Homo sapiens: one gene and its partners. The protein of the gene in region 5 purifies or fractionates together with the protein of the main gene of each other region. This does not show direct contact. Each region holds a gene or a part of one and is shown on either strand. Other genes may lie near its edges. The genes, in order: WARS1, YBX1, IGF2BP3, TARS1, TRIM25, IGF2BP1 and ELAVL1.

Region 1 (4,506 bases), on a different chromosome or scaffold from region 5:
AGGATGAGAAGAGGAGCAGGCCTGGCTGACTCCAAAGCTGCGCTCTCCCCATCACTCCATGGTCCTCTAAAGTGAGCCCAGGAACAAAGTGAATGGAAGCCAAAAAAGTGCCAACTCTTGACATCTTGGTTGCTCAGCAAATGAACTAGCATGATCTTGTCAGTTCTAAACATGGTTTATAAGCAACATTCTCAATTCACTAAGAGAGTAAGAAAAGCCATAAGATCCAATACTTACTTTGTGAAAATAAATGGAATGAGGTGACCTACATGCATTGCTTCAGAAGAGGGGCCCCGGCCCGTGTACAGATAAAATGGCTTCTTATTTTCATAGGCATCAAGAACCTGATTCATATCTCTAAAGGAAAAAGGAGAAGAGGAAGAGTGTGATTTTCTGAGAAAAATATCAAGGCACTAATGCACTTTTGGAAATGGAAAATATAGACAGAGACGAAACAACATGGATAATAACTAGAATTTGTTACCTTTGGTGCTTATGATATAAATATAGACAGGAAACTTCTACTGAAATGGTTTCTCCTGTGAGTGTTTTAAAAGACAAGATGTGTAGGTTTGGAATAATGTGTTTAAAAGATGGATCCAGCTATGCAGTTACTGGGACTCCTGGAATCCCTCCAAACATCAGTGCCGACATACTGTGAGCTTGGTACACTTCCCTGGGGATACCAGGCCAACACCATATGATCCTTGCTCAGAATCACCCAGCCCCGAGGACTCTCAGACCAATACCAGGCAAACTGCATGGGACCAGACAGTCCTGGCTTAGCAGGGAAAGTAAGAATTGTCCTCTGGGAGTTCAGAGGTCAAGTGCCCAGTTGGAGATCTATCTGGGCCCCTCAGCCAGCTTGGGACTAGGTATCTTCATCTGCAAGTCACTCAAGAGTCATCCCCCTCCCTACCAGGCTGCTTCCAATCACAGCTGCCTGCGCCCCACCTCCAGAGACTGATTCAATGGATCTGAGGTGCTCTCTGGGAATGTGTTTGTTTGTTTGTTTATTTATTTATTTTTGAGACAGAGTCTCACTCTGTCACCCAGGCTGGAGTGCAGTGGTGTGATCTCTGCTCACTGCAACCTCTGCCTCCTGGGTTCAAGCGATTCTCCTGCCTCAGCCTCCCGAGTAGCTGGGCATAGTAGGCACCTGCCACTATGCCCAGCTAATTTTTTGTGTTTTTAATAGAGACGGGGTTTCACCATGTTGGCCAGGCTGGTCTCAAACTCCTGACCTCGTGATTTGCCTGCCTCGGCCTCCCAAAGTGCTGGGATTACAGGTGTGAGCCACTGCGCCTGGCCGGGAATTTGTATTTTTAAAAAGCTCCGTGAGGAGTTCCAATGTTCAGCAGGGTGGGAAACCAACGCTCGAGGATGAATGTCCTTTGTTTCTGGGTAAAGTGTCCCCAAATACAAGAGGAATAACTACCTTTTCCAGAGGTCTGGATAGGAGAATCTAGAGAACAGTATTCTGAAAGTGACTTCTCCTTATATTCCCCAAGCCAAGGGTCAACATTGCTTATCTCTGGACAGATACAATTGTGGGTGTTCTGGTTTTTGGGCTTAGTTTTCATTTTTTTTCCCCATGAAATGCTCACATACTGCTTTTGAAATAAGGAAAGAAAATAACCCATAATTTTGGAAGGAAAGAATCCTTCTTTGGTTCTCACAACTAACCATATGGGCTTACAGAAGAGAAAAAAATGTAACTGTGCCACGAGCTGCTTTTCTTGTGTTTATGTGGAGCATCTGAGAACTCACTGTGTGCTCGGTCCTGGGGTGAGGTGCTCCTGACAAGCGTGCAGAAATTTACTGGGTTCCAATTTTGAGATCATGTTTTATGAGGATGGATTCCAGCAGAGACTCATTCAGCTACTAAGGGAACCCAGTTACCTGCCCACCACTTGAAGCTTGACTGTGCATAGTAGATCTCATTTAATCCCCAATTTTACAGATGACAAAATTAGACAGAGGGGCAGTTTGAAATTTGAGAATGGGCAAATGACTCAGGTCCTATGCTTTCCTAAGCCAAGAGGCTACAGTATTACTATACTGCAGTTAATAAATAAGTCACAAAGGCAGTGAGAAGAACCATGCCATGCTAAGATAAAAAATGCTGACTACAAACCAACAAAATTAGTAAACTTTGAACCAAAGTGACTGGGTGTGTGTGTGTGTGTGGGGGGGGGTGTGGAATAAAAGAGAAGACTCAAACGGCCAAAATCAGGAATATAAGAAGGGGTATTACTACTGACCTTATAGGAATAAAAAGGATTACTACATAAGGGAATACTATGAATAACTGTATACCAATACATTAGATAACCTTGATGAAATAGACAAATTCCTAGAAACAAACTACTGAAACGAACCCAAGAAGAAATAGAAAATATACACAGATCTGGAACAAACAAAAAGACTGAATTAGTAATCAAAAAACTTCCTACAAAGAAAAGCCCAAAACCCCATTTTCACTGGTAAAGTCTATCAAATGTTCAAAAAAGAATTAATACCAATCCTTCCCAAGCTTTTCCAAAAAAAATTGAATAAGAAATACTTCCCAACTCATTCTATGAGGCCAGTATTACCCTGATACCAAACCAAAGACATTAAAAGAAAACTACAGACCAATATCCCTTATGAACACAGATGTAAAAATCCTCAGCAACTCACAAACCAAATCCAGCAACATATAAAAAAGATTATACACTATGATTGAAAATAAATTGATTTTCAACACCATGATTAAGTGGAATTTGTTCCAGGAACGCAAGGTTGATTAAACACGCAAAAACCTATCAGTGTGATACACCATACTAATAAAATAGAGGCCAAAACCCACATGATCATCTCAATAAACACAGAAAATGCATTTGATAAAATCTAACATCTTTTCATAATAAAAACACATGTTGAAGGGTATATAGAAAGCCCACAGCTAACATTATACTAAATGGTGTATATTCAGTCTTTACTGAAAGTTTTTCCCCTAAGATCAGGAATAAGACAAGGATGCTCACTTTCACCACTACTATTCAACATCCTATTGAAAGTTGAAGTCAGAGAAATTAGGAACGAAAAAAAAATCCAAATTGGAAAGGAGGAAGTAAAACTGTCTCTAATCATAGGAGATACAATCCTATATGTAGGAAATCCTATCGAATCTGCAAAAAGAAAAAAAGCATTAGCGCTAATAAACTCAGCAAAATTTCAGGATATAAGATTAATACACAAACATCAATTGTATTTTTTTTTTTTTTGAGAGGGAGTTTTGCTCTTTTTGCCCGGGCTGGAGTGCAATGGCACGATCTCGGGTCACTGCCACCTCTGCCTCCTGGGTTCAAGTGATTCTCCTGCCTTAGCCTCTTGGGTAGCTGGGATTACAGGCGCCCACCACCATGCCTGCCCAATTTTGTATTTTTAGTAGAGATGTGGTTTCACCATGTTGGTCAGGCTGGTCTCGAACTCCTGACCTCAAGTGATCCACCCGCCTCGGCCTCCCAAAGTGTTGGGATTACAGGTGTAAGCCACCGTGCCCGGCCATCAGTTGTATTTCTATATAGTAGCAATGAACAATCAAAATGAGATTAAGAAAATGCCATTTAGAATAGCATTAAAAAGATAAAATTCTAATGAATAAATCTAAGCAAAGAAGTGCAAAACCTATACACTGAAAATTACAAAACATCAATGAAAGAAATCAAAGAAGTGAAAAGACATCCCATGTTCATGGATTAGATGAATTAATATTTTAAGATGGCAATACTCCACAAATGAATCTACAGATTCAGTGCAATCCCTATCAAAATCCTAGCTGCTGCTTTTGCAGAAATGGAAAAGCTGAAATTCATATGGAAATGCAAGGGGCCCAGAATACCTAAACAATCTTGAAAAAGAACCATGTTTGAGTACTCACATTTTCTTATTTTTTTTTGAGACGGAGTCTCACTGCCACCCAGGCTGGAGTGCAGTGGCGCGATCTCGGCTCACTGCAAGCTCCGCCTCCCGGGTTCATGCCATTCTCCTGCCTCAGCCTCCCGAGTAGCTGGGACTACAGGCGCCCATCACCACACCTGGCTAATTTTTTGTATTTTTAGTAGAGATGGGGTTTCACCGTGTTAGCCAGGATGGTCTCAATCTCCTGACCTCGTGATCCGCCTGCCTTGGCCTCCCAAAGTGCTGGGATTACAGACATGAGCCACTGCGCCCAGCCAAGAATAGTCTTTTCAAAAAACAGTGCTGGGACAATTGGATACCCACAAGCAAAAGAATGAAGTTGGAGCTGTACCTCACAAATATACAAAAATTAACTCAAAAAGGATCAGAAACTGAAATGTAAGAGCTAAAACCACAAAACTCTGAGAAGAAACCATAGGTGTAAATCTTCACAACCTTCGATTAGTCAGTGGTTTCTCAGATATGACACCAAAAACACAATCAATCAAAGATAAAATAAACTGGACTTCATCAAAATTAAAAACTTTCATACTTCAAAGG
Region 2 (4,506 bases), on a different chromosome or scaffold from region 5:
CTAAAAACTAGGCTTTCCATCTTATTTTGGATTCTGCTCCATTTACTATCTTTTTCTTACTGCAGTTATTACTAAGGTTCGAGTGTAACAGCTTCTAATAACCTGGGCTTTCAGACTGACCTCCCAGTCCAGCTGTTTTCTACCTGGGTTTTTTCAATTATACCACTCAACTTTCCAATTATGTACCTTCCTATTTTTCTTAGGTAATTCCTTATTGTTTTCTCATTCTTAATCTAGGACCTGTAATACAGCGATTCTATCACCTATTCATCTCACTCCAAGGTTGGGCACAGTGGCTCACACCTGTAATCCTAGCACTTGGGGAGGATCACTTGAGGGCAGGAGTTCAAGACTGCTTGAGTAACACAGTGCAACTCCATTTCTACAAAACAATTTAAAAAAAAAAAAACAACCCTCATTTTCCCCTTTTCTCCCCTCTTTATCCAAGTATAAAGTCTACCACTAATCATATGACCAATCCCTACCCCAGTGTCTTCATCTGGATAAACCAGATCTGGATAAATCAAACCAGATCTGGATAAACCAAATCTGGATAAATCCAACTCTCTGCCCAACCTGAGCCTGATGCCCAAATGGCTAGAAACACAGAGTCAAGCTGGGTGAACTCACTTCTAATTTATGATCGTTATCCTATTACTTATAAATTTACCATCTCTATTTTCTGTTCTAGAGGGTTCTTTGCCCCAAACTTTTCAAACTTCCTCTTTACTTTCGTCTCAATTTAGCAACCAAAGGCTTCCATGTCTTCCCATTAACACATGCGTGCCCATGTATTCTTGTTTCTTACACAGGAAAACGGCAGGTTCCTAACAAAAGGTCAACATTTTCACCTGTGGGCAAAACCCTACCCTCTCTGAGAAAGAAAACAGTTCCAGCAGTCACTTTCCTGCCATCAACTGTTATCCTGGATTGCATTTCAGCCTATAAATGTTATTTCTCAACAAAAAACCTCCCTTTTTGACCCCCCATTTTCCCCTTACTACTATTAGTCTCATTTTCAGCAACACTTGTACTATACTCTGTCTTAAGATTTCCCTTTCAGTTTGCTCTTGAACCCACACCAGTCAGAATTTCACACCATTCCATGCATTAGGGGCAGCATGTTTCATTTACTCTCATTTGAACAAAAGATTCCTGCACAGTTTGGAAAGTCTAGCATTCATTGATAACTTCCAAGCAATTTTATGTTACTTCTGCAACTATCTGGCAGGACTGAGCATTCTAAACATTGAAACACGTAGACATTAAGTCTAACTTAAACCAAAAGGCAAAAACCTCTGCACTGGAGGGGTAACAATGGACAAAGATACCTTTCTAAGAGACAAATCAACCGCAAGCTTGTTTGTCAATATAAAGACAAACAATTTACTCAACGGTGAACTGAAGCACTGAATACAAACACAAAATTATGCTATTTTTAAGGACATCAATGAAACTAGGCAAAACATTTAAGCTCTTCAGTGTAACAAAAGGTAAACCAAAGATTCTGCTGCTGGAACCCATGGACTTAACAGATGGACTGCCATGAGAGGCTATTTTAGACCTACTCTGAAAAATAAAAACCCATCTATCTTCAACATCCAGCATCTGGCTAACACAATCTCCTGGTAGAAAACTGAATCAGAGATCTTCAATTGTGGTAGTGATCAGTTAGGACCTCAGCTCTTTTAACTGAAAACTCAGGACAAGACATATTAATACAAAAAATATGATGACATCAGCTGCTCTTGCAAAACTCTCAATGTACATGTGCTGATAAATACATGTAATACAACCTCGACTAGATTCCCTAGTTCCTAAAACTTCACTAAGTGCTCCAACTTTGGTAAAATTTAAAAACCTATATACAGAAACCCCCTCTTATAGACTCACAGTATATTTTGGATATGTTGGATACTTCTAGAATAATAAACTTGACACTTAAAAATTTGGGGATTTAAAAGTTGCGATTTAAGTGATCAGTTAAGATGCGTTATTACTGTATTGGTTTGATTCTTCAGAGGTACCTGTCAGCTTTTGGGGATCACCTATGAAAACTCAATGCTTTGATATCAAACCCTTAGAGAAACAACTATTACACCATCCTATCCTACCACCGTGGGACTGGGAACACTGCCTCAAAGTATACTACGGCATGGACTAAAATATGCTTGGTTCATGGAATTTTTCCTCGATTACTCTAATAATGACATCTATTAATAAGATTTCTAATACCCACTCAAGTAGATAGTTGTCTAACGACAGACTGGATTTCCCCCCGCAGAATGTAAATTCTTGGTGGAGCAATTTCATTTTGCAACTTTGAGCTGACAACTCCCAACTCCAAAAAAAAGGGGGTACATATCTAAACTGAGAAGTGTTTAGTGGAAGATAATGTATGCCATTTCAAGTGATAACACTGTTGATTCTTCACTAATGCCATGGTACAATTCAGATACTCCTAATGCTTTCCTTTCTCCCTACCAAGGAGGCAGGTTTAAAAGGTGTGGTTTAAAATATTATCTTACCTGTTCAAGGACAGAAAATTTGAAATTCCAAACCCTCATCATTTTCTAAAAAAATTTATGTATAAAGCAGACCTCATCTATACAAGCTGTTTTTAATAGGTTCACCTCTTAGGCATCTGATGAAAGAAAACGTGAAGTGTTAACAGAAAAATGAGTCTGCAGGAGAGGCATGATATTGCTGAGTCCTAACACGGGTTTGAGGAAATTTTAATAGAAACATGTTTACGTGGACCATACCTGCGGAATCGTGGTCTATATCCCCGATACATATTCTGCCTCACTGGTCTACCTTGTTCTCCTGCACCCTGGTTGTCAGCACCCTGAAAAAGACAATGGAAATTAAGCCTACTGGGTCAGTAATATAATAAAAAAACCCAACCAGATAAATCCAAGAGTTAAAAAACAAACAAAACAGACCATCTAGTAATTGTGACTACATTATAAATTAATCCTTTTGGTTCTTACTAGGAATCCAAGTTGCTTTCCATATAATTAACAGCTCTAAACAGTCCTACCAGAACTTATCACATTGCTGTTGTTGATGGTGAAACTTACCTCCATCACTTCTCCCTGCACAGGAGGGTTGGAATACTGTGGTCGACGCCCATAGGGTCTCCGCATGTAGTAAGGTGGGAACCTTCGCCTGCGGTAGGGCCGGCGTTGTTGGGCCTGGCCTTCGGGAGCACTCTCCGATCCCTCGTTCTTTTCCCCACTCTCACTATTCTGGTAATTTTGCTGGTAATTGCGTGGAGGACCCCTACGACGTGGATAGCGTCTATAATGGTTACGGTCTGCTGCATATTTACTGCCTTGAACTGGAACACCACCAGGACCTGTAACATTTGCTGCCTCCGCACCCTACAAAAGCCATTACATATTGATAGTGACAAAGGAAATCAGAACACTTTCAACACTTTCAAAAGGAAATCAGAACATTTTCAAACAAAGCAAAAAACAACAAAGTTAAGGAAAAAAAAGGGGGGGGGGGCGCAACTGCGTGACCAGGGGTGCACAGAAATGACTAAATATCAGTTCCTCACTGTTCTGAAGAGATTGCCCTCTAACTGCAGCCAGAACATTAGGCTTGATGCACCTGTGTTCATGAGGTCACCTGAACACATCCATCCACATTAGAGCCACCATCCTAATGGATGAGACCTCCAAAATATTTCCATACTGAAGTCAAACCTTTACACAAAAAGCATCCTCACCTTTTCTCCTTCAACAACATCAAACTCCACAGTCTCTCCATCTCCTACACTGCGAAGGTACTTCCTGGGGTTATTCTTCTTTATGGCAGTCTAGTAATATCACATTCCAAAAATAGATTAACAGGGGAGAATAATGTGCTTTTTCATTTAAAATGTACCAGAGTCAATATTATTTTAGCTTGGATATACACTTAAGATTTGCTTTAAATAAGACCAAACCATCAATAAATTTAGGAAAGCGGGGACCACACTATCCCCAACTTCAACAAAAACACTCCAATCATACAAGGCCCCAGCATTGTACCACTATTTACAAAACTAAAACAAGTAATTTAACACTCAAGACAGACACATCATTTTAAAAACTGCTTTTTGCAAAAGCATTATATATAACTTTTAACAAATGAGGATATCCATCTATCCCCTGAGGACTGCACTTAATAGGAGAAGGTGGCCCCACACTGCGTCAGTTTAGATGACAGGCGAGTTTGGTTTTGCATGCTTCAAAGCTGACCAAACCAACTTTGCCCCTGTGTTACCGTATCAAACTCAATTACAAATGTCAACCAAAATCCCTTCCAATCTGATAATACATCAGTGGAAATGCAATTCATGTGTATTAACTATGTCATTCTTTATATGATCTGACTGCATGGAATTGTTAGTTATCACCTCCCCAGAATTCAATAAATCTTGTATTAGAGACTTGTTGCTTCTACTTTCTCCAGACTGTTAAGAGAAGGGAGGAAGAGTAACATCTCACGTTT
Region 3 (4,506 bases), on a different chromosome or scaffold from region 5:
TTTCACTTAAGGACTTTTTACTGTGTTGGTACTTGTAATTTTACCACATTTTCAAAAACATCTGTATGATATGAATATACTGTTATTTAACCATCTCTTCCCGCAATTAGATAATTCTAATTTTCTATCTGTTAGAAACGGAACTTTCCCATGCCAGTGGTTCTCAACTACAAATGATCATCTCTCTGCCCCAACCCCCGTAGACATTTGGCAATGTCTGGAGACATTTTTAGCTGTTAGAGTTGAGAGAGAGGCATGCTACTAGCATCTAGTAGGTACAGGCCAGGGAAGTTAGTAAATTTCCTACAATGCACAAGACACCCCATCCACAACAAAGAATCTGGCCCAAAAAGTCAGTAGTGCCAAGGGTAAGAAACATCACTCTTGACCCATGTATGAGACTATATCTGTAGATGTTACCAGGAGTAGATGTTACAAGAAATACAGTTCTTGAGTCACAAGGTGCTCAGCATTTTGCTGACCAGTTTGCTCCTACCAAAAGTGTTGAGTGTGCCTTGTTACCCATCATCTTGCCCATATTTAATTTTTTCTATCTCAATTTTTGCAAGTCTAGAAGAAAATGACATTCTTTTAGCTGGCAGACATATAATTACTAGTGAAATTAAACATCATTTTGAGTTTATTGGCCACTTGCTTTTCTTGAAGTAGAATTGCCATCTGTCCAGGTTCCATTCCTATCACTGTTCGTTGCAGACTTTCCTCTATCAAGGAGGCAAAATGTGGGAAGAACCTTGCAAAGGGGAAGCAGATTGGTGAAATCTGCTCATCCAATGAATGAAGAATGATATACTGTGCAGAATAAGCAGTTCAACTTGGCTTATGGGATTCCAACTCCTCTCTTGGCATGCCCTCCAGTTCCTATTTGTTTTAGAGCAGATTGAATCCAGGCTCTTTGTCATGAGACATTTGTTCTGTGGCATCTGAAAGGAAGCTGTAAGCACAAACAGCTTGGGTAGAATGAAAAGATGTCCCCGCTTGGTTGGATTGAGGAAAGAGAAAGGGGAATGTTCCTAGAATTAAAATTTGCCTCTTAAGGCATTAATGTTGACAGCTTATTGAAAGTTTATGCTCTTGAGGGAAGTGAGTCATCTGCTTTGCCCTGAAGCCCTATGACTTTGCATTTGGTAATTACAGACTCCACTGTGAATACACGCTTACTGCTCTCGTTTTCCTCTCTGCTTGCGCCCACTATCAGAATCGATGTCCACCGTAAAGAAAATGCGGGGGCTGCTGAGAAGTCGATTACTATCCTCTCTACTCCTGAAGGCACCTCTGCGGCTTGTAAGTCTATTCTGGAGATTATGCATAAGGAAGCTCAAGATATAAAATTGTGAGTAAAGAAGATTGTCCTGTGAAAGAGGTTGATATTTGTGCTCTTGTATTTTTGACATCTCTGACACAATTCTTGGGAATTGCCAACAAACAGAGGGAAATGATATCCTGATGAGCTACAGTGGTTGGCACTGTTGATCTGGTTGTGAAGTGTATGTCTTTTAATATTTAAATATTTTCATTCACATTTGAACATAGGCGAGTGGTGATAACGGGGAAGAGAAATGCAGCTATAGAAGAAGGCAACTTGGGGAACCTAGGACCAGGAGGTATCCTGGATTAACCCAAAACAGGAGCCCCAAATCTTGACTCATCCTTTACTCGGAGCTCATTGGAGCTCTGTTCTTGTCCACTGCCTGGCCCCACCTTGGAGCAGCAGGGAGTGTGGAGGTGGGGAAGTGCCTAAGTCTCTTCTAAGGCAAACTGGAGATTTATCTGGGTAATGCAGGCGGGAACTCTATTTCTTCCACAGGAACTTTGAGTGAAGGTTGGGTTCTGTGCCACGTTTAGCGTACAGAACAGCGCTGCACTGAAAGTAGAATCGAGAGTAAGGCACTGGAGTTAGTGTGGGGACCTCATTACCAACCTTAATTTGTAGAGAACTTTAAATATGTTTTAGTAATATTATATGTGGGTGCCATATCATAAGAATGTAATTATTAAAGTAAAAATTTTAAAGAAGAATTATTTTAGTATAGAGAAAAATAGGCCTGGTGTGGCGACTCATGCCTGTAATCCCAGCACTTTGGGAGGCCGAGGCGGGTGGATCATGAGGTCAAGAGATCAAGACCATCCTGGCCAACATGGTGAAACCCCGTCTCTACTGAAAATACAAGAATTAGATGAGCGTGGTGGCATGTGCCTGTAGTCCCAGCCACTTGGGAGGCTGAGGCAGGAGAATGGCTTGAACCCGGGAGGCGGAGGTTGCAGTGAGCCGAGATCGCGCCACTGCACGCCTGCCTGGCGCCAGAGGGAGACTCTGTCTCAAAAAAAAAAAAAGAAAGAAAAAGGAAAAGCCCACCATCTATTAACCACAATGACATTTTAAACAGTTTTATATATATATGACTGGGAAATTCAGAAAGCTACAAAATGAAAAGTGAAAGCTCCCCTTCCTGTTCTTATGCCCTTCCCCCAAAGTGTAACCACTGTTGTTTCTTCTGTTTCCTTCTATAAATTATGCACATATCTCCAGGTGTATATTTGTACTGGATGGTACTGTTTTTTATTTGTACGTTGTGTTCTGGTAGTAGGGGTTTAGGAATATGGTTTTGAGTAAGAGACTCCATCACTGAAGATATTTCCTGAAGTGAATAAAATAAGAACTATTTTAGAAGTTAACTTCTGTATTTTTTCTCCCCTTCTATTCATGCATTGCTAGAATGCTGGCCAATTGTCAGCAAGTTTTAAGCTGTACCTAACACAGTGCTTCCCAGATGGTAGGTAGGAAGTAAATGTTTAATGAGTGAATATTGTCTTTTTACCCACGAATAGGTTTACTTATTCTAATTTTATGGCCACTTTTCTATTTACAGCACAGAAGAGATCCCCTTGAAGATTTTAGCTCATAATAACTTTGTTGGACGTCTTATTGGTAAAGAAGGAAGAAATCTTAAAAAAATTGAGCAAGACACAGACACTAAAATCACGATATCTCCGTGAGTGCTCCTTTGCTTTTGAATAAGAAAACTTTCCAACACTGTAAGCTGCATGTTGTGTATTGGGCTTAGCTTCCCACTTTACAGCTGCTTCAGCTAGCCTGTGCTGCCGTACTTACACATGGTTTCTCAAATACAGCTTGCTGCCTGTTAGGTTTCTGACCCGTATTGAAAGCATTATCTGCTTCTGGCAGGAGGAACCAAATGCTTTACATTCATGTTTTCTAAAGCAGTCTTAACTATGTTTTATGACATTTATTCCCAAAGTTGGAATATATAACCCAGTTTATTATCCATTGTCGTGTAACGCATTATCCCAACATTTGACAGCTTAACACAATGTGAACATTAATTGCTCAGCTAGTTTTTGTGGGTTAGGAATGCAGGAGCAGCTTAGCTGGGTGGTTCTGGCTTGGGGTCTCACAATGCTGCTGACAAGTTGATGCTGGCTGTTGGCAGAAGGCCTCAGTTCCTCCCACATGGGCTTCTCCACAGAGCTGCTTGAGTGTTCTCAAGACATGGCAGCTGTCAAGATGGAAACTGCAATGTCTTTTATGACATAGCCTCAGAAGTTATACTCTATCATTTTTCTAATGTTGTTTACACAAGTCAGCCCTATTTGGTATGTATGTGTGGGACTACAGATAACTGGGTGACAGGAATCACCTTGGAGGCAGGCTACCACACTTAGAATCTGTGGATGCTCTGAAATTACGTGGAAAGGTTTTTCTGAGGGTGGCCATTCTTAGTTTCACTCAGAGTACTCAAAAAGGTGGGAAAAGATTGATGAACTGAGGAAGAGTGGTAGGGGAAAGACTGCACGGTGTTTGTGTACAAGGAGTTTTCAAAGGAGGTAGTAAGGAAGCAGGAAACTTCTGTTTGGTTGTAAAGAAAGGGGGAAAAAAACCCCACAAAGTGGTAAATTCAATAAGTAATACTACTTTGTCTTAAATTTACCCCCAGAAAGGGGAGAGTTTTAAAAGAAAAAAATCTCAAAAGTTATTCTAGAAGCAGCTATTTTTAAAACTGTAATACAAAATGCTTGGCAGGGCCAGGTTGAGACTGAATTAGAATTATAGACTTCTTTTTAAAGTAGTCTAAGAGAAATAGTCTTCATTATACAAATGTTTACATTTTTAACAAGTTTGAGGAAAATGTTAAGGAATAACTTCCCATTCATCTGGCTCAAGGTTAGCCTGTGACATTATACTAGTAGTGAAAATGAGAACTTCAGGAAGATGAAGGAGATTTGTACCAATAATCCATATCCTCTCAATTTATGTACTTAGTTCTGTTTTCCATGGCACATGTCTCCCATTGCTTTTCCTCTCAAGGCTGTTGACCAGCATAGGCTTAGGTGTTTTCAGGTATGATATTCAGTGGCTTTTGAAGGTTCAGCAGGACCTAGGTCCCGCAGGGAGTTTCTGAATATTTCTGCCACTATCTAACGTTTTTGTTATCTAAATGGCATCGGTGAACCATTTTAAATTTTAGT
Region 4 (4,506 bases), on a different chromosome or scaffold from region 5:
CCCAACAGTGGCAGGGAATAAGGGTCCCTTCAGTTCTTTAACTATCCACTGCAGTACCTCTCATGGTTCTTAAATTCCTTAAAGCTCCAAGATCTGGATCTTTTTTCATTTTATTTATGTATGTATTTATTTTCTTAGTAAGAGTATCAGGAAGGAGACTGGGAAAAAGACACTGATAATGAAATAGATGATGGTAAAGTTGGCTGACTTTGGGTCATGGTGAAAGAAACACACCCTCCTACCTCCTTGCCAACATCCGCCTCCCCAAGTGCCCAAAAGCCCTCAGGGAAGGGCCCATCAATCATTGCTGGCTGCCTCATAGCTGGAATGTCAGGTAGTCAGGGGTGCAAGGCAGTGGCTGCTACCTCCAGCTCAAGCTTCATAACCTAATAGCCAAGGACCCCTGGCACAGAGTGCCTATTTTAAGGGGGAATGTTTTATCTAGCCTAACTTCCAGTTTAGAGGACATTCAGCAGTAACAGAGATAATGGGTAGAGGAAATGATAGCACAGGATCCATGTGCGACATGCTGCTAAACCTTGGGCAACAAGTAGGTTAATCTTTGTGGGACTCTGTTTCCACATTTTAAATGAGTCAGTGAAACTAGAGGGTTTCCATAGTTCTCCCAGCTCTATGAGAAGCTGTTATACTTCTTTTACAGAAAACCGTAGATCATCAGTGTTTGCTCTCAATAAAAGTAGTTCAAATGCATTTTTGTGCGGTACTGAGCATACTCCAGGCAGATAATGTGGACAATCAGTAAGTGTTTATAGTTTGTACAGGACATAGCACCAGTTACTAAAAAGCCACAACATCTCTTCAAAACAAAATTCCTAGTACTTCATGCAGCTGAATTTCAAACTTCAAATGAAGTTGAAGAAAACTCAGTCAAGACACATCATTGTTCTTGAACATACCCTGCCAATTTTCCTATGATCTCGGTTTTTAGCTTCCTCTTGGAACTTCTCCCACTCTTTCAACATTTTAGGATCTGGGAATGAAATGCCATAAATTCTCTGGAGAGTCTCCATATCTGCTTTGCCTTCCCAGTACGTGGAGGAATTCTGAAAACAAGGATTAACCATGAAACAACATTCAAATTTGTAAACATCTCACTTATTTTAACTCCCAATTGCTTTGAGGCCTTGTTAGAGTAGTTACTCATTCTGCAGCACAAAGTTGGCTGTTTTCTATCCTCAAAAATGCCCCTCCCTCAATCTGCAGGTGGGTGCAGTGGCTCATGCCTGTAATCCCAGCACTCTGTGAAGCCGAGGCAAGAGGATTGCTTGAGCCTGGGAGTTCGAGACCAGCCTGGGAAACACAGGGAGACCCCATTCTTTATTTAAAAAAAAGAAAATTACCCAGGCATGGTGGTGTGCGCTTATGGTCGCAGCTACTCAGGAGGCTAAGGCAGGAGGACTGCTTGAGCCTGGAGTGCAGTGGCACGATCTCCATTCACTGCAACCTCATTTCCCAGGCTCAAGTGGTCCTCCACTCTGTCTTTTTGGGGCAACAGAGTGAGACCCATTCTACACCCCAATACCCCCAAAACTGCCCACCCCTCAATACTCAACCACAATTCCACAAACATTACTTTGCCTGCAAAGGCATTTCTCACAAAATGAGCAAAAATAGAAATGAGCCAATAAAAAAAAAATCTTGAAATGACTCAATTATTCTCTTGATTTAAAGTGCATTTTAAAAACCTCCATAAAATGTTTATGAACTAGTATAAAACTGGGTTCTGTTAAAAACAACAACTTGGGAAATTATTAATTTAGACATATAAAGGGCAAAAGCACATACTCCCAGTGAGTCTCAAAGCTTTTATAGAGCCAGGATGGCCCATGCTGTATGATTTTGTAAAATCTCCATCCCCTGTGATTGCTCTGGCAATGACAGCAAGTCAGTCACCCCTTGAGGGATTTCAATTATAAAATCCTGATGGCATACAGCTCCCAGTTAATAGAGAGCATGAGAAAATACCATCCTTTCATGTGCAACAGAAAATGGTAAAGAGAAATCAGTGAAAGTTTAAACATATATCTATTCTAGACAGATACATTCACAGTCTTTAAAGTTACATTACTTACTTTGTGTATTTTTAAAGCCTTAATTTTGCCCGTGTGTCTAACATGAGGACCCCGGCAGAGATCTATCAAAGGGCCACATCTAAAGATAAAATGAAAGGAATTTTAACAAAGACAAAATGACATACATACCAGATACATTTAATGACATCTAATATTCTTACCTATAGACTGTGGTAGTTGGAGTATTCACCTTTTCATTCAATATCCGGCATTTGAACTTGTTGTACTGAAAACAGGAAAAATTATTATTTTAAAAAACTGTCCTTTAATTTTTACTTCTAAGTACTATAGCTAAAACGTAGCACTGTATGAATATAAATGTTGATACTTCATGTTTTAAAAACATGTTGAAGGAATGGTTTGCTAGGAAAAAAATGAAATTAAAAAAATAATAAAAACACTTAATTTTTGCTAAAGAACCAATTAGACTTCAGCTTAGTACACGGAACGCCAGTGGTGTCACTTCAACTAACATGAATAAATGATATTAACAGTGGGGGCCACGCACTATGGTTCAATTTACCTTAAACATTGCCAGTAAAGTTTCTTTCTTAACTTCCAGTCTTTCAAAAGCTTGTTTTTCTTTAATGATTTTCTTACACAAAGCCTCCAGAGAAGAGAAATCATTGCTAGACACACCCCTGAAGGAGAAGAAAGTATAATCTTTTCATTCCATTCGAATCACACCATGGCTTCGAAAAATGTTCATTTGGAAATAGTATTTGGAATACTTCAAGGGTTTTAATATTAAAAAATTAGACTATTGCATCGTATCTTAGAATTCTAAACAAAACATTTTTCATAAGTAATTTTTACATTTTATATTTTCAGTAGCTTCTACCTTGGTCATCCATGGAGACCTTTCTCACTAGTGACCCCTTCCCGCAACTCTATCACCAGGTTTTAAAGGAGAGGGGAGGACCAGTCTCCCTGAATTTCCCAAAATACCTTAGGACTCTACCTCCATCAATCTAGAACAGAGGTCTCATCAAATCCTCTATTACTTCAGGTAAATTGCAACACTTCAAGTACTGATAATGGGCATACCTGATGAAGAAGCAGTGAGATCTATATCATTCCTCCCTTACTGAGAACTCTTAAGAATAACTTATGGATCCATAGTCATTGACTTCAGTTTTCTTTATCTAGTTGATGGCTTACCCTTCTTCGAGGTACATGTCATAATAGAATCCATTTTCTATTGGCGGACCGTAGCATAAACATCCACCATAGACTCTTTCCATGGCTTCACCCATTATGTGAGCACTAGAGTGCCAATACACCTGAAAATTTAAAGAAAAATGGCATGGTCTGAGTCTTGGCATACAAGTTGCCAATTAATGTGGTTGTCTGAAAGAGACAGATGATAATATTTACTACAAGTAAACCCAATATATAAAATCCTAAATTTCTAAATCTATAAACTACTGTTTCTATCCATAGCCAAAGTAATTCAAAAGGCTTCCAATTACTAGTGTATTTTTATTTTGGAAATCATCTGGTTTAGCTGTTTTCAAACAAATTAAACTAAACTTGGCATCACTAATTAAATGACATAGACTTTGTTCTCTGAAAACAACTGCTACTCACAATGTGACTAACTCATTGATTGCAATGGCCCAGGTTCTTTTGAGTCAATGTGCCCACAGCACCATGTCTCAGACACTGTGATCTGGCCTTTAGCTGGCTATGGAACATCACTTAGAAATTACATGTTGTTACTGGCCCAAAACAAAGGTGGTACAACCCGACCCCACAACACAATGACAAAACACGAGGACAAACATCTGTACACTGAAATCAAATGGCAGTACTTGGTTTTAAAGTAATCACTGGGATGAGTCAGAATACACCCAAAGCAATGTTTTCAAGATTTAGTATTAAGGTACCAAAGTGACATTAAAAAATTCTCGTAAGAAACTTGAGGGCTCCAAAATACATTTGAAAACCACTAATCCACATACATAAGTGAACAATCATCACTAAAACAAAATACTTTGTCTCCCCTTATATGATACACAGCCATGGAGAATTAAAAAGAAAATCTTGTCATCACATGCAGGTTGACTTTTATAGTGTTATCCAGCAGATTTGCATCTTAAGATGAGAAAAAAATACAGAAATTATCCAATAAAGGCAGTGCTTTGAAGTAAGGTTCAAATTTATTTGTCAAATGTACATATCTTGCTAGAGTGTTCATAGCTTAGAGGCCAGGCACAGTGGCTCACACCTATAATCCCAGCACTTTGGGGGGCCGAGGTGGGCAGATCACTTGAGGTCAGGAGTTCAAGACCAGCCTGGCCAACATGGTGAAACCCCATCTCTACTAAAAATACAAAAATTAGCCAAGTGTGGTAGTGCGCTCCTATAATCCCAGCTACTTGGGAGGCTGAGGCAGGAGAATAGCTTGAAC
Region 5 (3,647 bases):
CACTCTAGGCAGGCTCAGAACACTTGATATTCCTGACAGCTACACACCTGACATGCAGGTACATACCTGATCGGTGTCATCTCCTAACAAGGATTTTCAGTTCCTCGGGAGAGCAATAATCTTTGTAGGAAAGACATCCCTGCAATAGGTGATATGTGGTCCTTAGAAGTTTTATTCCTTTACTACTTGGAAGAAAAGTTCTTTGGTGATTCTTCTCTGCTTTTGAAGATGATCAAAAGCATCTTCATTGATTTTCTGAAACGAAAGCCTTGTCTGAAACCAATTAATACTTGGGAAACAGCTGGGCTTGGAGGAGTAGAATGCCAGAGATAAATCCATGGCTCCTGCTCTGGCTCTCTTCTGCAGAAATGAGGGCAACAGTGAGGCCACTTCCCTGGCAAATGTGCAGCTCAGGATAGGGAAGCATAAGACCCTCTGTTTAAAAGAGAGTCAAGTAGGTAACCAAAGCCAAGCTCTGTGCAAGGTGCTTTGGAGTTGTAAATTGAGGAGTGCATCCTTGCTGTCTTGAACCATTCTGTTTGCAATGGTGAGACCTTACATAACCTAGCCTTGCAGGGCCGCCACACAACCCTGGAGTCCTAGAGTTGGAGGAACCTTTGTATCCATCTGACTTCTCATTTTGCAGAATATGATGAGAAAGTAGAGGATCGCTCTGTTCACCACTCTTGCTATTCCATTAGTGGGGAGATGCCTGCTAGCATGTGTGAGGGGAACACTCTGATACACTGGGAAGTATCGGAAATTCCCAGAAACACAAACATAAAATAACTCTCCTAGACCCAGGTACTGGGGACTGTCTCAGTCCGTGTGGCATGATAAATAAAAGGTTAGGATCAAGTCTTTGTATTTTTCAAGATGTGGTAGCTGATTATTCCTGTTTTAAGTACTCTGAAATTGATCTGTGATCAATAATACTAATATGTTATCTTTTACCGTATTCTGCCTCTCACTATTGATTTTAATTAGTTAGGAGTATTTGAGCTGTTATTTCTTGAGCTTAATATTTTTTTAGAGTTAACTCTTTAAGGAGATAATCATGGCTGTAGACAAGGCCAGGGCTGGCTGACGTGCCTTAGAAGGTTTGAATGCAATAAAGCGGTGTTTGGCGTTCTCCTGCATTGTAGTGCGGGTACAAAATGCTATTTGTTCGTCATACTGTTGTCAGCAGATGAGCCGCCCACTACAGACGGCTACTGCCCAGGGACCTGCCCAGGCCCCACCCAAGGGCTCCCAAGGGTTGAGATTTCTGCAGACCTATAGCCAGCACACTTAGTCCTGCCCTATATAGAGTTCCTCTTCGGGAAGCTTTTGATAAGGAATTCTCAGACCGATAGGATGTCTGTCTGGGCTTTGCTGCGGGACAGTCTAACTGTGGGGGCTAGGGGAAAGCAGGAGAGTATCGATCAAAGAGTAAGCCACACACGGATAATCAGTTACTAGGGATGGAGGTGTGAGGGTTCATTATATTATTCATTTTACTGTTGTATATGTTTGAAAATGTCTATAATAAAAAGCTTTAAAAAAAAAAAAGAAACAAAAATAGTTCAGGCCAGCAATGGGCCCTCCATGTTCAGTGGATTTTATCCTTGTTTCAATTGGGGTAGGAGTTCCAGGAGGTGTGGATTGGAGGTTGTCTAAAGAATTGAACTGGCCTTTGTCCCTGCTTCCTGGGAGGGAGACTTTCAGTCCTTGACATTTCCAGGGTAATAGGAGTGTCTTTGTTATTTGTGAGGCCATGGGATCACACCTGAGCTTATGCTAAAAGGTGGGATGACTCAGAGCTGGGGCTGGTCACCAGACAGACTGACCATGTGATTAGAGGTTTGAGGCTTTGAGTCAGCCTGACCTATGGGGCGGGGGACTGGAGGCTGAGTTTAATCATCTGGCCAGTGCTTTAATCAGTACATCATGAAACCCTAATAAAAACTCTGGACACTAAAGCTCAGCATAGCTTCCTGGGTGGTGAAGCTGTGGCTATGCCGGCAGGGCAGTGTGCCCTAATTCCACGAAGAGGGGGCATGGGAGCACTGTGCTCAAGACCCTTCCAGACCTTTCCCTGTGTCTTCCTTGGCTTGTGGAGCTGATTTGTATCCTTTATAATAAAACTAATCATAAGTATAGTCCTGAGTTCTGTGATTTTTAGTGAATCATTGAACCTGAGGAAGATCATGGTACCCTCCTGGGATTGTAGGCAGTTGGTCACAAGCGCTGATGGCCTGGGATCCCCACATGGGGCTGGTGTCTGAGGTGAGGGCAGCCCTGTTGGGGACTATGTCCCTTCGCTGGTGGCATCTGATCTAACTCTGCTGGTCGTTGTTAGAATTGTGGTGCGGTACACCAGGTGGTGTCAGAACAGAGGCGGTGGGATCTGCACACCTTGAGTAAGCCCTTCTCGACCAGCCTGTTGGAACAAAACACACTACTCTTCATGGGAGCCTCCTGAGTTTCTTCTCACCTGTGTGAAGTCCCCTTTGTTTACTGTCCTGAGTTTTGTTCTCGCTCATCTCCAACCCCTCTTGTAGTTTTTTCTTCCTCACTGTCACTGTAACCATAAAAATACTCAGTATGTCAGTGATAGACTTGTCTTTCTATTCAGAGATGACTCTTCAACTGTCCGGGGACACTTTTTTCCAATAAAAAGTTCAGGATGGTAATTTGTGACTCCTTACTAAAGGCAAGCTGGGAGTGCGTGTGTGTGTGTGTGTGCACGCATGTGTGGTTTTTAAGTCATTTGTGGTCTGCTGGGGTGACCCATGGGCTAAGTTTGGACTTGCTCATAGGTTTTACATCTGTTTTCTCATCAGTTCCCAGGCAGTCTTGAAATGCCATAGCATCATGAATAACCGAAGGATCTCCAACCGTTATTGACCTTGGAGTTGCAGTCTACCTGTATTTTATTGTAGATCAATTCCAATACATAAAATACAGGAAGACTCTAAAAAAGCAAATCAAAGAGTGAAGGGGAAATGATACATTTAAAAAGCCTATTTTAAAGGGGGCAATTTGGAATAAATGCACACACAAAATGGGTCCTTTTGCTGATGCCTCTGCTGCCTTATTGAGCTGTATGTCCTTATTCCAGGCACATCTCCTTTCTGAGTCTTAACTTTGCCTGCATTAAAGGTTCCATGAGGACCAGATGAAATTTTTGAGGTAAAAATAGGTCGACATTTAAAATATGGTGCATGTGATTACTCTACCTTCTCTACATACCCATACACACACCTGCATTTTGAGGGAAATCTAGTTGGGGGCTGCCTTGGGAACTAGGACACAGCATTATAGCCAAAGGGCCTTTTCTCTTAACCAAGGCATGTTGGCATTGCCACCACTCCCTTCTTGGGGTCACATTCTCCACAGAGTTCCTGCACCCAAGGGCTGTTGACATTAGGTGAGCCCCACCTACTCCCTTCCCTTGTGTATTTGAACTTTGTTCTTCTCCTTTCTGCCTCACTATATCCCCTTCCTCCCTGCCAGCTTCCTGAGCTTGTTCCGTGAACCACAGACAAGCCATTTGCATGCCCAGGCTGTGCTGAGCCCTGTTTGCTGTCCTTGGCACCCTGTCCCTGATCTGGGATGGCAAAGCAGGCAGGTGTTCTCAGATGGCTTCTAGGGATCCAGCCACA
Region 6 (3,500 bases), 7.8 Mb from region 5:
CTGGGTAGTACCCTCTGCTTATCCTTTCCTGAGTCTTAGCAACAGCAGCTTGTGGGGTGCAGGGTGATGGACATGTGCCCTGTGCCGTGTGGCCTTGGAGCTTTAGTTGATGCTTTTGGACTTCGACTATCAGAAATAGTATTTAAATAGTATTTAATTAGCAAGGATTCTTCACCTGGTTCCTAGAGTAGGGGTCCAATCTTGGGCTTTGAGTCCTGTGATTCCAAGTATGTGTACAATTTGTGTTTGTGTGCACTTTATTGAAATGAGGGGGTCCATCGTTTTCATCTGATTTTTATTTTATTTTTTTGAGACAGGGTCTTGGTATGTTGCCCAGGTTGGAGCACAATGGCGCAATCATAGCTTACTGCAGCCTTGACCCCCTGGGCTCAAGGAATACTCCTGCTTCAGCCTCCCAAGTACCTAGGAGACTACAGGTGTACACCACCATGCCCAGCTAATTTTTTAAAATTTTATTTTTTGGAAACAGGGTCTTGCTGTGTCACCCAGGTTGGTCTAGAACTCCTGGGCTCAAGCGATTCTCCTACCTTGGCCTCCCAAAGTACTAGGATTATAAGCATGAGCCACTGCACACAACTCATCTGATTTTTAAAGGAGACTTGGGGTTGGGGTACAGGACCAAAAATGTTTAGAATCAGAGTCCTAGAAGTCCAATGGAGCTCTGTCTCCACGCCTTTTTCTCATATAGGGGGTTATAGTATAGTGTCATGGGTCTATCGTCTGTCTCCAGCAGTCTGAACAGCCAGAGAGGAAGGACTCCTGAGGGTGTACAACTGTTTGGCATTTCTGGTTGCAATTGCTAGCCGTTAGTCCAGTGAGAACATCATATCACTTAAAATTCCACACCCGAAGTGTGTAGGTGAGAGTGTATGAAAAGCACAGAATAGGCTTTTGTGGAAAAGTATGTAATTCATGTTTTTGGCCCACTTGCCTCTGGGGCTACTCGCCTTTTATACAGCGGGGGTCACACACAAGCCCCTGTCAGGGTGTGCTGACTCTTCCTCCTCATCTTTCTTCCCCAGCTGCAGTCTCACCTGATCCCTGGCCTGAACCTGGCTGCTGTAGGTCTTTTCCCAGCTTCATCCAGCGCAGTCCCGCCGCCTCCCAGCAGCGTTACTGGGGCTGCTCCCTATAGCTCCTTTATGGTAGGTGGAAGATCTTATTACACGGGATCCCTGGGCCCATATGTGGCCTCCCTTAAGGGGGACTCAGCATGCTCTGGGAGTTGGATGCTTGGCAAGTTTGCAGGGAGAGGGAAGGAAGGTCTCAGAGGCATCCCTCCTCTCCAGTGCTCCTAGCCACTGGCTCTGAGGCTCCCAAATGTCTGCCTAGAATGCTCCCGGGGCATAGACAGCACTGTTCCCTTACTCTCTCCTGGCCTCTTCCCTTTAGCCCTACTGGGCATAGGAAGAGCTAAAGAGCTCACAGCATCCCTTGGCAGCCCAGGGTGGCGGTTTGGTGCCTGTACTCCTTCCTCCTTGAGGATGCAAGGCAGGGGAGTGGAGGGTTTCTGGGCCATGCTACTTGGGCCCCCTGGTAACAACGCCTCCTATCCTGGCAGCAGGCTCCCGAGCAGGAGATGGTGCAGGTGTTTATCCCCGCCCAGGCAGTGGGCGCCATCATCGGCAAGAAGGGGCAGCACATCAAACAGCTCTCCCGGTTTGCCAGCGCCTCCATCAAGGTGATCTGCTCTGTGGGTCTTCCTGTTTCTGGAAAGGGAGGGGTCTCTGCTTTTATCACTCTGCACTTTCTCCCATATTCCCCCTACTCATTTGAGAATTCTGTGTGTCATATGAGGGACCTTTCCCCCATGGAATCGAAGTCCTCTTTGTTTTTGATCTTGCTTGGTCCCCATGGGATGGCTTCAGTGCTTCTGGGTTTTCAGGCTGGGCAGGGGCAGGGTTATAACATAGAAAGAGAACTTAGGTTCTAACACAAACTGATGGGTTCAAATCCAAGATCCATCTCATCACCCCTTCCCCCAATACACTATATGATCTGAGCCTCACTTTCCTCGTCAGTACAATATTATGAGGCTACGCAGCCAAAGCCCTTCGCTCACATACTAACACCAAGTAAGTGTTAGTTGTCTGTCACCTTCCCTGGCCAAGGTCCAGGGGAGAGAGAAGGGAGAATCTGTCATAGTGAAACAAGGATGCTGTTAGAGTTTCACAAACCTAAATCCGGTTGCTTTAGTTGTCTTAAAAGCTTTGAGCAAAAACCTTGATTGTTCTCCAGTGGAGGTGCAGTCACTGCCCTCTATCCGTTGGTCATTTCATTTGTGTCCTTGCCTGTTGGCAAGACTCCACTGAAACCTCTCTGGGAGATTGGTAGGTGGAGGGGGCAGGAGGCCCTACTTAGAAAGTGTCATTGAAGCCAATCCTTCTAACTGACCACCTCTGCCCTCCTAATAATTCTGGTGTGAAGGCGTAATGATGTGGGCTTCAGGGTCTTTGTTCTTCCTCCCCTAAGTCTTCAGAATGGGTAGTTGGGAGTAAGGGTGGTAGAAGGGGAACTGGATGAAGTGGACATGGTGGGGGTCTTCCCATAGAGGGTCCCTCATTGACTAGCTTTTTGCTTTTTAGATTGCACCACCCGAAACACCTGACTCCAAAGTTCGTATGGTTATCATCACTGGACCGCCAGAGGCCCAATTCAAGGTTTTGGTCTTTATTGTTTTCCAAGCTGAACATGGAGGAATTGAGGTTGGGTATTTCCCCTGAGGTAGGAAAAAGGCTGGGTCAGTTTCCCGTTAGCTGTCAAGTCCTCATCACATCTTTAAGCCTTCCATGCAGGATAAAGGGCTGCAGAGCTATTTTCAAATTGACATCAAACTGGATTTCTGTTGACTTCGTCTTCCCTTTTTAAGGTCCACAGAAGAAGATGGGAAGGAAAGAAGTCTGAGGGCATCTTATTTGCACTCTGCTGTCATTTCTAAGGAAGGCCTTTAATGCCAAATTCTCATCTTTTATGTCCCCACTAAATCCTAAGGTTCTTGAACTTCTGATCAGACAGCCAAAAAATGAACCATCAACTAGCTTAACCTAACATATGTGAGGATAGAGGACTGGGACAGCTCTCTGGGCCACTGGAGAGTCAGACAGGCCTGCCCTCTGTGTGACTTGATTAGTTGCCATTCAGGGCCTTGAAATGCTGGTCAGTGCCACGTCCAGATTCCATAGGTCTGGTTTGTAGCTTGTGAATTAGATTCCTCTGGGAACTATTTTTTCCCTTGGGAAGTGTTTATTCAATTACTCATAACTCATAATCTCCACCCAGGGTCTCCAGTATGATAGCTAAGCAGAAGGAATGCTGACAAGCTGCCCACCTGAGCCTTGCCCTTCACCTGCCTTAGATGGTTAGCCCGCCTAGGATGGGGAGGGCCTGTGGGCCAGAAAATATGGGCTGGAGCTTCCTTTTTCCCACTTTTCTCTTTTGTCACAGATATATGAACCACTGATTAACAATTACCTCCTCTT
Region 7 (4,506 bases), on a different chromosome or scaffold from region 5:
AATTGCCACTAACCGTCTTCGGGTGCTTCTATTTCTCTGATCCAGCAGGGACCCCTGGGCTGCCGGCTCCAAAGGGCCGGTCTTGGCTCCCAACAGCAGCACGGTTCAGTCCCTGGAGGCTGGGTCTCCAGGACTAAGGCCAAGCGCAGACTCTCAGAGGTTAAGGCAGCTGCCCTTGGCCAGGAAAAGGCTCACCTTCCAGGAGAAGGTGGCGGAACCCACCCAGCACCACCTGCGGGCGGGCCCCCGAGGAAGCCCATGAATTTCAGGATATTCACGCAGGATGGTGGCCGGGGAGGGGACTCAGCACCCGGGAGGGAATCAGTCACAGAGCTGCGACTAGAGGCACAGCCAGCACAGAAAACTGCGGCTTGGCAAATTACACTGAAAACGAAATAATGGCAGAGCCAAGGGGGAACAAGGGAGAATTCATCAGGAAGCAGGTTCACAAATTCGGAGCTGCCTGGGGTCTAACTACCAGAGGAAGTTACACACGGGTCAAAAGGGAATTCAATCAAAGCCTCTTTGGTATTTCCCAAACCAGATTTTTGATAAATGAACATTATCTACTCTGAACGCTTTTTCATCGAAATTCCCAAATAAAAGCAGAGCACTCATTTTTGCTAAATAGAAATACAACTGATCTATGTAAAATTTTTTAAGAAATGGTTTCTTTTGGGTTGAGCCTTTTTTAAGAAAAGGGATCTCCCCTTTGCAAACAGGCCTTGATAAGATGTAATGAACTTTGAGGACACAGGGCCAGCAACTAGAACCTTGATGGAACAGAGATTGCTTTTCAGGAGTGACAGTTGTTAAGCTAAATCCTTCCACAAGCTTGCAAGCTAAGACTCCCAAATAAAGGCTTTGGAATTTTTTAGCTAGAAGGCTGTTCAAACAGCGGAGACCACATACAATGAGAATGTTCCTGAACTGAGAAACTTCAGGGAACTTTCAAAGGCTCATATACTTCACAGTTTCTTCTCACCTGTCCCAGCATCAGAATAATTGATAGGATTCAGATAAAAGGGGGCGAGGAAAGAAGCTGAGGTGCTACAAGCCCGTCATCATTTTCACAGTTGAAGCTTAAGACAGAGTTCTCTGTTGAATGCTAGCTATGGGCATGTGTGGGAGTGAGACTCCAGGGGGAGTTTCAGAAGCGGGAATCCCGCCTTCCATCAGAAGGGTGTTGGCTCCCACCTTCCATCAGAAGGGTGTTGGCTCCCACCTTCCATCAGAAGGGTGTTGGCTCCCACCTTCCATCAGAAGGGTGTTGGCTCCCACCTTCCATCAGAAGGGTGTTGGCTCCCACCTTCCATCAGAAGATGCTGGCCCAGGGAAACCTGAAAGGCTTCTTTTTCCAGGAAAGCATTCTGGTCCCAGGATGCAGACTGCTCTCGGGCAACAGAGCAGGGACCCTCTTTTGTGTCGAATCCGGGCAATGGGCCTCGGTTTTGGCTTTTCCTGAGGATCTGGGATTCTGTGGGAGAAAGGAGGTCCTCTCTGGCACCAGGCCGACTTTTATGAGACACAGCCTGGGTACGGATGGCAACATCATCAATTTGCAAGGATCGCGCACACAGCCCCTCAGTAAAAGATCAGGGAAAGGGGAGGGGATGGGCATCCTCAATTGTCCAGGGGCCTCTCGAGACGCTGACCTGCTCTGGGGACGGTGGTGCCTGCCTATTGCTCAATTTCACACTTCAATAAATAAATACATAAATAGGTATAAATAAACAGATAAATACAGCCATCATCTCATGAGAGCAATAACTAAAAAACAGCCTACGGTCACGTTTTAGTCTCACGTCAAGGTTAAAAACTGCTGGTACTAAGTTATCCTGTTTGTGATTCTCTCTGTAAACTAGTTATTTATAAACGCCAGATCCCAGTCCTGAGGAGTTTTGGGTGATCTGGCCCTGCCTATTTCACAGGCTTTCTCTTTCACCCTTCCTCCGGGCTCCTGGTTTAAAAGCCACCAGCCTGTAACTGCACATTCTTGCGTCACAGATTCAGAAATGCTTTTGCTTGAGGCAAGGATTGGTTTCTTAAGATCTTACGACTCCTCCCTGAATGCTGGGCCACCTGCACCTTCCCTAGCCAAAAAGAAAGAAAAGGTAAAATAAAAAACAAAACAAAATTCGAGCAAAACAAAATCAAATTTAATGGTCTTAAATGCAAAAGTAAAAACAAACAAAAAACACAAAAAAGCAAAAGAAAATTAACAGAACAGAACAACCCAAAATGTCAAGGCAGTTATGAAGAGAACTTTGAGGGTTAATCTTTAAAACTACAAATCAAAGGTTTTGGTTAATAGATAACTGGCAAGAAGTAAGTACTTTTCTGCTGAGTGTTCATACAAAAGCAAAATTCCAAAACAAAATCCGACTAAAATAGAAAAAGGTCTAAGCGCTCACGAGAAGGGATGCGAGAAATACAATGCTCAAATGTTTCTGTGTTATTAAAATACAGAGCCATTTTACGCCTCCAAGCTATGTTAAATGCTCTGGAAAACGGGAGAAATTATCGTGAACAACAGTATCCAATGTGTGGGGCGCTGTGCATGCAATGTGTGGACAGAAACTCGGGATGTCAGAGTAGCAACACATCTTCAGGCGTGCCTGGAGCTTAGATCTGACTCTGGAATATACTGGAGTTTCCCTGAAACTCTTTGGTCCATTCCCATTGGTGCCTGGGCTTACGAAACACGTTTGTGTCCTTCTCTGGAGGGCCCGCCCAGCATGCAGCCCGTGGCCCCCGGCCCCAGTGGTGGCCCACGCTGGACGGGCCCGCCGCCATTCCCAGGACCACTCGGCAGAGCCCGGGACTGAGTGAGCAGGAGGTGGCAACGGGACCTGCCTGGAAAAGGAACTTCCTGTCAACCAAAGCATACATCGCTTACAATGTTGAAGCGGTTGAGAAAACGCACACTCAGCATCTGTCTAACATCTTTAGATTAAAAACTAAAACTAAAAGGTGATTTTTTTGCTACCCAGTCTGTGGAGACATTGAATGAAACGCGTGTTAGACAGTCTTAGAGGTTAAAGCATGCTTCAGGTTCACCACCATCCAGAGGGACTGGTTAGTCAATGCAGTTCTACTTAGATTTCTGTTTAATATATATCTTAAAGGAAATAACTTACGAAACTTAAGATTGGTCTAACATTGTGGGATTTCAAACATTTGAACATGTCGGTTGCATCCCAGAGTATAAAAACCTTCTCACTTCTCATTCAGACAAAGACAAACACTTGTGAAAATTGGCGCAAAATGAGTTGTACACTAACAAGAAAAGTTTCAACTCCTTCACTCTTAATTATCTATTCCGTACAAAAAAAAGCATGAGCGAGTTATTTGTGGGACTTGTTGGTTTTGAAGGAAACCTGTAAGATTTTGTCCCCCAGGCGGTAGCCGTTCAGGCTGGCTATGGCCATCGCGGCTTCTTCATAGTTTGTCATGGTCACAAAGCCAAACCCTTTGCACTTGTTGGTGTTGAAGTCGCGGATCACTTTCACATTGGTGACGGCACCAAACGGCCCAAACATCTGCCAGAGGATCCCCTCGTCGGCATCCTGCCCCAGGTTGTAGATGAAAATGCACCAGCCGGAGGAGGCGTTTCCTGGCACGTTGACGCCAGAGAGCCCGCTCATGTGATCGACGCCCATGGGGGAGAACCTGGCAGACAGAGAGCAAGCGTCAGGCCACGGTCAGCGCAGGCGGCCTGGGGATGGGGCAAGGCCTGGACGCATGCTGACCATGGCCGCTGGGCCCCATCCCGCTCTGCGCAGCCACGAGGTGCTCACGGTTGAGACACCTGCATGGGTCAAAACCCTGGGAGGAATTAAATACAGTAGTGGAGGGGCGGGACCCTGTTCTGTAGGGAGCTGACTCTGAGGGGCTGGTTGGTGCCCTCCACTCCTCCCACTGTGTATGTCGGGGTTTCTGTTTAGGGGTTCCTGCGGTTCCCCACATTTTAGATGATGGGCGCTTCTCCTGGTCCTCCGTTGAAGGTAGAAATGCTCTGCAGGCCTCTGACAGCCTCAGTTCTCCCTGGAGGAAACTCTCCTCGTACTGTGGGGTACGTGCAGGGGCTGAACTCCTTTTTCCAAATTTTGCACCTTCCCCTTATCATGACCCGCCCCCAAGCGTTGACAGCCCAGTGGTCTCTGGTTAGAGCACGCCTTTGCCAGGGCCACTTGTAGGGCACAAGAATTCCTTCCCAAGCACCAGGCAACCAACCCTCTGTGGCTAGAGCTCAACATCCCCTGAGGGTCAGGGGCCAAACCACTGAGGACTGAGAACTCAAGGGACAGGGAAGGGCCCTGGGACACCAGCAACGGCAGGCTCACCAAACTTGACCACACACGTGGGGCTCTTTCCACAGTGATACTTTTATTTACATAAAAAATAAGCCTTTCTGGGCCAGGCATGGTGGCTCAAGCACGGAATCCCAGGACTTTGAGAGGCCAAGGTGGGAGGATCACTTGAGGCCAGGAGTTTGAGACCAGC

What was found.
Region 1: the proteins of TRIM25 (region 5) and WARS1 fractionate together in Homo sapiens (co-fractionation; 2 studies listed by BioGRID). This does not show direct contact.
Region 2: the proteins of TRIM25 (region 5) and YBX1 purify together in Homo sapiens (affinity purification with western blotting; 4 studies listed by BioGRID and IntAct, with this or other methods). This does not show direct contact.
Region 3: the proteins of TRIM25 (region 5) and IGF2BP3 purify together in Homo sapiens (affinity purification with western blotting; 3 studies listed by BioGRID, with this or other methods). This does not show direct contact.
Region 4: the proteins of TRIM25 (region 5) and TARS1 purify together in Homo sapiens (affinity purification with mass spectrometry, with the first as the bait; one large-scale study listed by BioGRID). This does not show direct contact.
Region 6: the proteins of TRIM25 (region 5) and IGF2BP1 purify together in Homo sapiens (affinity purification with western blotting; 2 studies listed by BioGRID, with this or other methods). This does not show direct contact.
Region 7: the proteins of TRIM25 (region 5) and ELAVL1 purify together in Homo sapiens (affinity purification with mass spectrometry; 2 studies listed by BioGRID, with this or other methods). This does not show direct contact.

What each region holds. Positions count from the first base shown.
Region 1 is NC_000014.9:100,354,210-100,358,715, forward strand, and holds part of WARS1 (tryptophan--tRNA ligase, cytoplasmic), read right to left. Parts: intron 358-4,506; coding exon 238-357; intron 1-237. UniProt on the Homo sapiens protein: Catalyzes the attachment of tryptophan to tRNA(Trp) in a two-step reaction: tryptophan is first activated by ATP to form Trp-AMP and then transferred to the acceptor end of the tRNA(Trp).
Region 2 is NC_000001.11:42,695,522-42,700,027, reverse strand, and holds part of YBX1 (Y-box-binding protein 1), read right to left. Parts: intron 3,830-4,506; coding exon 3,740-3,829; intron 3,387-3,739; coding exon 3,084-3,386; intron 2,849-3,083; coding exon 2,766-2,848; intron 1-2,765. UniProt on the Homo sapiens protein: DNA- and RNA-binding protein involved in various processes, such as translational repression, RNA stabilization, mRNA splicing, DNA repair and transcription regulation.
Region 3 is NC_000007.14:23,344,445-23,348,950, reverse strand, and holds part of IGF2BP3 (insulin-like growth factor 2 mRNA-binding protein 3), read left to right. Parts: intron 1-1,216; coding exon 1,217-1,351; intron 1,352-2,888; coding exon 2,889-3,011; intron 3,012-4,506. UniProt on the Homo sapiens protein: RNA-binding factor that may recruit target transcripts to cytoplasmic protein-RNA complexes (mRNPs). This transcript 'caging' into mRNPs allows mRNA transport and transient storage.
Region 4 is NC_000005.10:33,453,815-33,458,320, reverse strand, and holds part of TARS1 (threonine--tRNA ligase 1, cytoplasmic), read right to left. Parts: intron 3,377-4,506; coding exon 3,255-3,376; intron 2,735-3,254; coding exon 2,617-2,734; intron 2,320-2,616; coding exon 2,255-2,319; intron 2,173-2,254; coding exon 2,094-2,172; intron 1,065-2,093; coding exon 918-1,064; intron 1-917. UniProt on the Homo sapiens protein: Catalyzes the attachment of threonine to tRNA(Thr) in a two-step reaction: threonine is first activated by ATP to form Thr-AMP and then transferred to the acceptor end of tRNA(Thr).
Region 5 is NC_000017.11:56,886,403-56,890,049, reverse strand, and holds the end of TRIM25 (E3 ubiquitin/ISG15 ligase TRIM25), read left to right. Parts: 3' UTR 1-2,141; downstream 2,142-3,647.
Region 6 is NC_000017.11:49,042,385-49,045,884, forward strand, and holds part of IGF2BP1 (insulin-like growth factor 2 mRNA-binding protein 1), read left to right. Parts: intron 1-1,043; coding exon 1,044-1,166; intron 1,167-1,582; coding exon 1,583-1,702; intron 1,703-2,606; coding exon 2,607-2,681; intron 2,682-3,500. UniProt on the Homo sapiens protein: RNA-binding factor that recruits target transcripts to cytoplasmic protein-RNA complexes (mRNPs). This transcript 'caging' into mRNPs allows mRNA transport and transient storage.
Region 7 is NC_000019.10:7,960,136-7,964,641, forward strand, and holds part of ELAVL1 (ELAV-like protein 1), read right to left. Parts: intron 3,673-4,506; coding exon 3,348-3,672; 3' UTR 1-3,347. UniProt on the Homo sapiens protein: RNA-binding protein that binds to the 3'-UTR region of mRNAs and increases their stability.